Linked DNA regions of Homo sapiens. The protein of the gene in region 2 purifies or fractionates together with the protein of the main gene of each other region. This does not show direct contact. Each region holds a gene or a part of one and is shown on either strand. Other genes may lie near its edges.

Region 1 (3,649 bases), on a different chromosome or scaffold from region 2:
ACACTCATGTCCATCATGCCCATATTCTGCAGGTTCTCCAGACTTGCTTCCATGTCCTCCTGTAAAGAGGAAGAAGAATCGTTAACGACCACCTGGACCAGGACAGGGAGCTGCTGCTTGTCATCTCTACCCTGACATCACTTACCTGCCCGTCTCTGGAATCGTCTTCCAGGCCATTATCTTCTGTGCCTTCCTCCTCCATCTTCAGTCCTAATTACAGAATAATTGTTCAATCAGATAACACTCAAGTTCTACCTCATAATTAGTTTATGCAGAATAGATTTCAATCTTAGAACAGAACACATTACAAGATAAACTATAAGTCTCCCCTCTCCTGTCACACGTAATTTTGTCTCAATTTGTTTTCTTTTTTTTTTTTTTTTTTTTTTTTTTGAGATGGAGTCTCCCTGTGTCACCCAGGCTGGAGTGCAGCGGCACAATCTCGGCTCACTGCAATCTCCACCTCCTGGGTTCAAGCGATTCTCCTGCCTCAGCCTCCTCAGCAGCTGGGACTACAGGCGTGCATCACCATGCCCAGCTTATTTTTGTATTTTTAGTAGAGATGGGGTTTCACCATATTGGCCAGGCTGGTCTCAAACTCCTGACCTCGTGATCCACCAGCCTCGGTCTCCCAAAGTGCTGGGATTACAGGCATGAGCCATGGTGCCCGGCCTCAATTGGTGTTCTAAGTAAGCCATCAACAGGGAGATGAAAATCTAGGATTCCTCTTAGATTCAGAGTACTCTGATTTTCCACAAAATATCTAAAAGTTTCCAAATATTTCAAAAACACTCCAAACCTAAGAAAAAAAATCACAAAAAAATGAGCAAAGGATAAAAACAGGCATTTTCAACAAACCAACAAAAAAATGCAATACCCATCTAGTAACCAAAGAACTGCAACATAAAATAACATATTGAGTTAGTGATTTGCTGGCTCTCCCTATATTCCACCCATTTCAAGTAGGTCTTTGTCATTTTTTAGCTCAAGAACTTTTTTTTTTCCCCCAAGGCAAAAAGGCAAAGGCTGCCATAAAGTCGAGAATCATCCTGGGTTTTGTGACCACAAAATAACTATTTGATAGAATTCTGCTAGGAATTGCAAAAGGAGGCCAGAGGAGTTCAAGAGTGGAAACCTTGAGAAGAAACTTGAGGCTCTATATGTATCAAAAACCTTACAAATGTGCATACCCTTTGTTCCAGGAATTTGAGTCTTAGGATATCTGACAAGGAGTTCAAAACATAGATATCTGTCCTATTATACCTGTTAAACACCCAAAAGGGAAACAAATTACAGCATATTTTCATTCAGATATGGTTCACAACCGGGGGGAATGGCTGGCAATGTCTGGAGACATTGTTAGTGGTCATGACCTGGGGGAACGCCATTAGCATCAGTAGCTAGTGATGCTGGTCACGACCCTGCAATGCACAGGATACTCCCCAACCCCAGAGAATTCTTCGGCCCAAATTGTCAACAGTGCCAATGCTGAGAAACCCTGTGGGACACCATCCAATGTCTCACAATATTTAAAGAATGTATGCTTTTAAAGAATATTTAATGAAACAGAAAAAATGCCCACAGTGTAGGCACAGTGGTTCACGCCTGTAATCCCAGCATTTTGGGAGGCTAAGGCAGGTGGCTCGCTTGAGCCTAGGAATTAAGAGACAAGTTCGGGCAACAAAGTGAGACCCCCATCTCCACCAAAAATACAAAAATTAGCCAGGCATGGTGTTATGTACCTGTACTCTGAATTACCGGTGAGAATGAGGTGGGAGGATGCTCCGAGCCTGAGAGCTTGAGGCTGCCACGATCATGCCACTGCCCTCCGCTCTGGGCAACAGAGTAAGACCGAGTCTCTCTAACATACACACCGATAAAGAAAAATCAAACAGAAAAAAATACATACTTTCCCGTCTCTACTAAAAATAGAAAAACAGCCGGACGTGGTGGCGGGCGCCTGTAGTCTCAGCTACTCGGGAGGCTGAGGCAGGAGAATGGCCTGAAGCCGGGAGGCGGAGCTTGCAGTGAGCCGAGATTGCACCACTGTACTCCAGCCTGGGCAACAGAGCGAGACTCCGTCTCAAAAAAAAAAGAAAGAAAATTAAACATAAAAAACCTGCAGGGTCTACACCTCAAGAGTCTCACTCACCACTATTATCAATAATCACTCAAGAAATGCAGTTTAATTGCATGTCTCGCAACGTGAGCTTTTTCCAGTCTATCATTTAAGACGCCTAACAACGCTAGCAGGTTTTATTATCTGCATTTGACACGAGAATTTGGTTGAGCTCCAAAGCTGGCACTCTAAAACTCAGCTGTCCCACTTCGCATTATATCTAAACACAGCATATCCTTTTGAAATACGTTGTCTAAAAATGTTTGGTAATTGCACCCAATTTCTAGGCCCCTAAATAGTAGCCTGCAGTGCCCACATAGGCCGGAAATAGGAGAAATGCTGACCAAAAAGCATCACAGAAAAGCTAATGTGGCGCAGACAGGCGACGCCCCAATCCCCGGCACCTGGCATTGGCCAACGAAAAGCTGCCGCTGCTGGGGACACAGATGTAAGAAAATCCAACTTTAATCCCACATGGCATCTAAAACTTAAATTTTTAATCCAAGTTTTATTTTTTCCAAACCCACCTACAATGTTGCCTAGGACTCCTAATCTTGGTGAAGACCCTTACTCTGATTTATAATGAGGACACTTTTCCCTCAACAAGTTTGGCTACTTCAGTTTTTGCAAGGAAGCAGTTACTGGTGAGTTCCCAGAATGAGTCCAACTTTGGACTCAACTGAACACTGCTGCATAGTGCTTGAAACGAAAATTAACTGGTGAATTCCTCCTGATCTAACAGTTGTATGTAATCACAGGCCCTAACTGCAACCACAAAGTCCTAAGGCTCTTGTGCTTTATCCATTAGCCACGTGCCCCGACACCTCTAGAGAACATCACCAGCTCAGGATGGAAGATGAGGCCTGCAGGGCCTGAGCACCACCTGAAGACCTGGGCTCTCTCTGGGCTTGGTTACTTCTCTGAAAAAGGAATGGGAAGGGATCAGAAGCCCTTCTAACCCTCACTAGAGCTGAGGCTACAAAAGTCCTTTTTATAGCAACAGAAGAACTTTATCATCCAAGCTTTCCTGACAAAACACTAACTCCAAGTAGTTTTGAATCCACCTAAGCTTTAATCTAGACATTCAGGCAGGTCTTCAAAGCACTCAGCTAAAGTTTAGTTTTTCTAATGATGCAAAGATCATTAGAAATGATCCCTGCTAGGCCGGGCACAGTGGCTCATGCCTCTAATCCCAGCACTTTGGGAGGCCCAGGCGGGTGGATCACCTGAGGTGAGGAGTTCGAGACCAGCCTGGCCAACATGGATGGTGAAACCACGTTTCTACTAAAAATATAAAAAAGTAGCTGGGCGTGGCGACGGGCACCTGTAATCGCAGCTACTCAGGAGGCTGAGGCACAAGAATCACTTGAACCCGGGAGGCGGAGGTTGCAGTGAGCCAAGACCGCACCACTGCACTCCAGCCTGGGCAACAACAGCAAAACTCCATCGCAAAAAAAAAAAAAAAATCCCTGTTAAATTCCTGCTAAAAGCCAAGGATATTTTGAGTAGTAAGTCTTGAACTTTACAGTT
Region 2 (3,649 bases):
ACATTTAAGGCAGAAATATTATGAATATTACATAAATTCTTCCAAAGAGTATTTTAAAAGCATTTTCCAACTGCTTTTCTAAGTCCAGCATCATCTTAACAGGAAAACCTGACAAAAACATTATAAAGAAAAAAAAATTATAGACCAGCGTCTCTTGTAACCAGAGTTGCTAAAATCCTAACAAAATATTCTTCAAATTGAATCTAGCAATATATAAAAAGGACAGTGCATTGTGACCAAGGTGAGTCTACACCAGGTTGAACAAAAGTAAAAAAATGTAATCGTGATAGGATAAAGAAGAACCTACAAAAATCACATACCCTATAACGTACCCTCTAACACAGCAATGCCACTCCTAGGTACGTGACCATGAGAAATGGGTACCCAGGTGCCCCCAAAAGATAAGTACAAGAGTGTTCACAGTAGATGCTTCATAATAACCCAGACTGAAATCCTCCCAGGTGCTGAGAACAGGCAGCTGGATAGCGCGGCATCTGTGTTCAACCGAAGGCCCGAGGGAGAGAACGCTGCTGTTACCCGAGCCACCTGACTAACCGCGAGCAGGAGAGCAGGAGAGCAGGAGAAGGCAACACGAATTCCACACCTCAGGAGTCCACCTAGACAAGATCCAAAGCGAGCAACAGACACCCACGACCTGGCAGGCATGTGGGCGGCCCCGTCATGGGGCGGGCCGAGGGCTCTGGTGGTGTCACCATGTCTAATGCTGGCACTGTTCGCTTCCTGTTTGCTTCAAGAAGACCAACCTGTACACTTTTCTGAATACTTGCTACCCTTCAACAGGAAAGGTTACTTAAAAACCGTTTCTGGGACACCGGTGGAGTCAGGTATGTGATGTCTTCTTAACATTATTAAAAGAGAGAGAAAATCCATTTTTGTATCATAACTGTGCTATTCTGAGCCCCTAACAGATATTTTGTATGCTTTAGGGCATATGACTGGATTCCACAACATCCGAAGCCTCTTGCATGTTTCCATGAGTTTCGCTTCTGAGATGGGCCACCAGGGCCGTGTCACAGAATGATGCGTCTGGGTCTTGGCCCCCGACTTGGCAGCGCCCACACTGAATGGCTGAGACCCTCCTTACCGGATCTCCGCTGCCCTGTGCTCCGGGAAACGCTTGTGGAAATACTTAAGCGCCTGCATCACGGCTGAGGTGCACTCCACATAGGTGTAGTCAATCATGATGTCCCCTGGGAAAGGGAGGGAAGAACCAAGTGTTGGGTTTCACCCTGGCTGCCCAGGCTCTGCAGCTCAGGCAAAGCCACAACAAGCAAGAGTGTTGCAGTGAGCCCGGGCCCGGACGCTGCCTCCCTGACCAACCTCCAGAGCAAACGCCGGCTGGTCCAGGACACACACCTGTGCTACCTGAGAGCGAAGATGAGGGGAACACAGCAGAAAGCTGCGACCCCACCCCAAAAAGCCATGTGTGATGTGGAGGGGACCAGGAAGGCGGGTATGTGAGGTGCCCAGAGGTGGACCAGGGCTGAGATCCTCCCCCAAGACCAGTACGGTGGCAACCATGCACACACAGCAGCCTACTGCCCATGGCATGGGTCCCCACAGTCCCCACAGTCCCCAAAGACACCTCCCTGCAGGCGCTCTGGATACACAGCAGCCTCCACAGAACACAAGCCCTGTGGACTGAGCAGGAACCAGCCCAGGCTGTGGATCTCACTGGAACCCTCCACTGTCCCCTAGGTCTGACCTGATGCCCTCCTATCCACAACACAAGGATCCTGCCACCCCGGGGGATGGAGGAGCGCAGAACAGCCTGGGCTGAGGGAGGGCTCCAGACAGATCTGCCGGTGAACCTGGGCCCTTGCAGCCTCGGGCAAGGGGGAAAAGCTGGCCCCCAGGTTTGTGTACCACAGTGCTAGCCAGCCCCGGGTTTGCGCGCCGCAGTGCTGGCCGACCACTCACCGAAGACCTCCGAGGGGTTCAGCAGCTCCAGCAAGTGCCCCCCACGCTTGGTCTCATAGGTGGCGAACCCTCCATCTGGATTTCTCATGTTCAGCAGCTGAAATCACAGAGAGCACCCTAGAACTCGCCCATGTGCTGAGCACACACAGGCGCCCAGGGCACAGCGGAACTCTCTAGAGGCAACACTAGGGCTGACAACCGATGGGGCAGGAACAGGGGGCGGAGAGCTGATTTCCACGTTAACCAAGCCCTCGGGTGCCCCAAGCAGCAGCTGCAACCTCATCTGTCAGGGCCTCCATGCACAGCCACCAGGGAACATGCCCCCACACGTGCCCATGACTTAGAAACCAAGTCTGTGCTGCCAGAAAAGGGCAGGGTCTCCACTGGGAAACACACACAAAAGCCAGATGTGCTGAAAGGATGTGGCACCAAAACCAACACCAACAAATTCCCTCTTCAGACACCCAGTGGAAACCACCAGAGAGAAACCTTGGGGGCCACGCCGGCTCCCCCAAGTATCGGTGGCTGGGCTGGACACCAGCTCCGCAGTGCAGGGCCCTGTGCACACAGCCCAGCAAGGCCCCTAGGGGTCCAGCCAGAGCTCACAGTTCTCCACATATAGACACCATCCAAGGACAAGCTCCTACGGCCTGGCCGGACTGTGTGCTGGGCTGGAGCCCACAGGAGTGGAAGTGAGCACGCAGCTCATCTGCAGGACACGAGGTATGGACGGGGCTGCTGGGACCACAGCCTTACCACAGCCACAGCATCGCAGAGCCGTTCTCTGGGGATGTGCTCGGTGACATGGGGACACTTCTCCTGCAGGAGCAGCACAGCCTTCAAGGCCTCAGCCGTGCAGTCAGAAACGATCCAGCCGCAGTCCAGCGTACTGAAGGAGAAGCCACCCTGCAGAGCACAAGCCATGACTCCAGGCTGGGGGTGTCCACACCCCAGTTCTCAGAACCTCCCCACAGCCGCACGCATCCCTCCCCACCACAGAGCACCCGGTCAGGGCAGGGGCCCAGCCACCAAAGGTGTGGGTGCAGCCAGGGCCCCAAGCTGGGTACATCCAGACAGACCTCCAGCTTCCAGCACAGGGACCCTCAGGGGTGCAGCTCACACCCTCAACACCTGCAGATCTCACGACGGACAGGATGGGGCCCAGGTGCCCCCCACCCCCATTGTAAACAGGCAGCAGCAGCTGGGTCCATGCCTAATTTCACAGTCTGCACCTGTGGTCACAGCCCACACCGGCTCTGAGGTCTACTTCTTTCCTCTGCCTTCCCCGGACACACTGGCTACACTTCGGCTGTCCTTCTGAAGCCTGTGTGTGCCGTGACCACTGGAACTGCTCTGAGGCACGGCTGTGTGTGCAAGCCAACTGTGCCTCCATGTGCCAGGCAGCTCAGCAACATGAAGCATGAGCCCCTAGGCCAGGCATCCACCACAGCAGGACACCCAAAAACGCCAAGGGAGGAGTCCCCCAGGGAGGAGCCCCCCCTTCAGAGGGAAGGACCCACCCTGCTGAGGGCGGCCTCCCCTGGGGGACGGGACAGGGATGGGGCTGGCTCCCGCATACCTTGCGCATCTGGCGGTAGTACTTCTGGTAGTCGGGAGGGTTATCTGGGACCTGGGCAGCATCGAGGGCAAATGTGGAAGCAGAGAACACGTCACCACGGGACGTCCCCATCTGGGACATCGCTGAGAC

What was found. Proteins that work in one complex are often made in the same cells at the same time.
Region 1: the proteins of LSS (region 2) and SAFB2 purify together in Homo sapiens (affinity purification with mass spectrometry; one large-scale study listed by BioGRID and IntAct). This does not show direct contact.

What each region holds. Positions count from the first base shown.
Region 1 is NC_000019.10:5,616,277-5,619,925, forward strand, and holds part of SAFB2 (scaffold attachment factor B2), read right to left. Parts: intron 211-3,649; coding exon 146-210; intron 60-145; coding exon 1-59. UniProt on the Homo sapiens protein: Binds to scaffold/matrix attachment region (S/MAR) DNA. Can function as an estrogen receptor corepressor and can also inhibit cell proliferation.
Region 2 is NC_000021.9:46,204,731-46,208,379, forward strand, and holds part of LSS (lanosterol synthase), read right to left. Parts: intron 3,572-3,649; coding exon 3,521-3,571; intron 2,848-3,520; coding exon 2,698-2,847; intron 2,039-2,697; coding exon 1,942-2,038; intron 1,212-1,941; coding exon 1,106-1,211; intron 1-1,105. UniProt on the Homo sapiens protein: Key enzyme in the cholesterol biosynthesis pathway. Catalyzes the cyclization of (S)-2,3 oxidosqualene to lanosterol, a reaction that forms the sterol nucleus.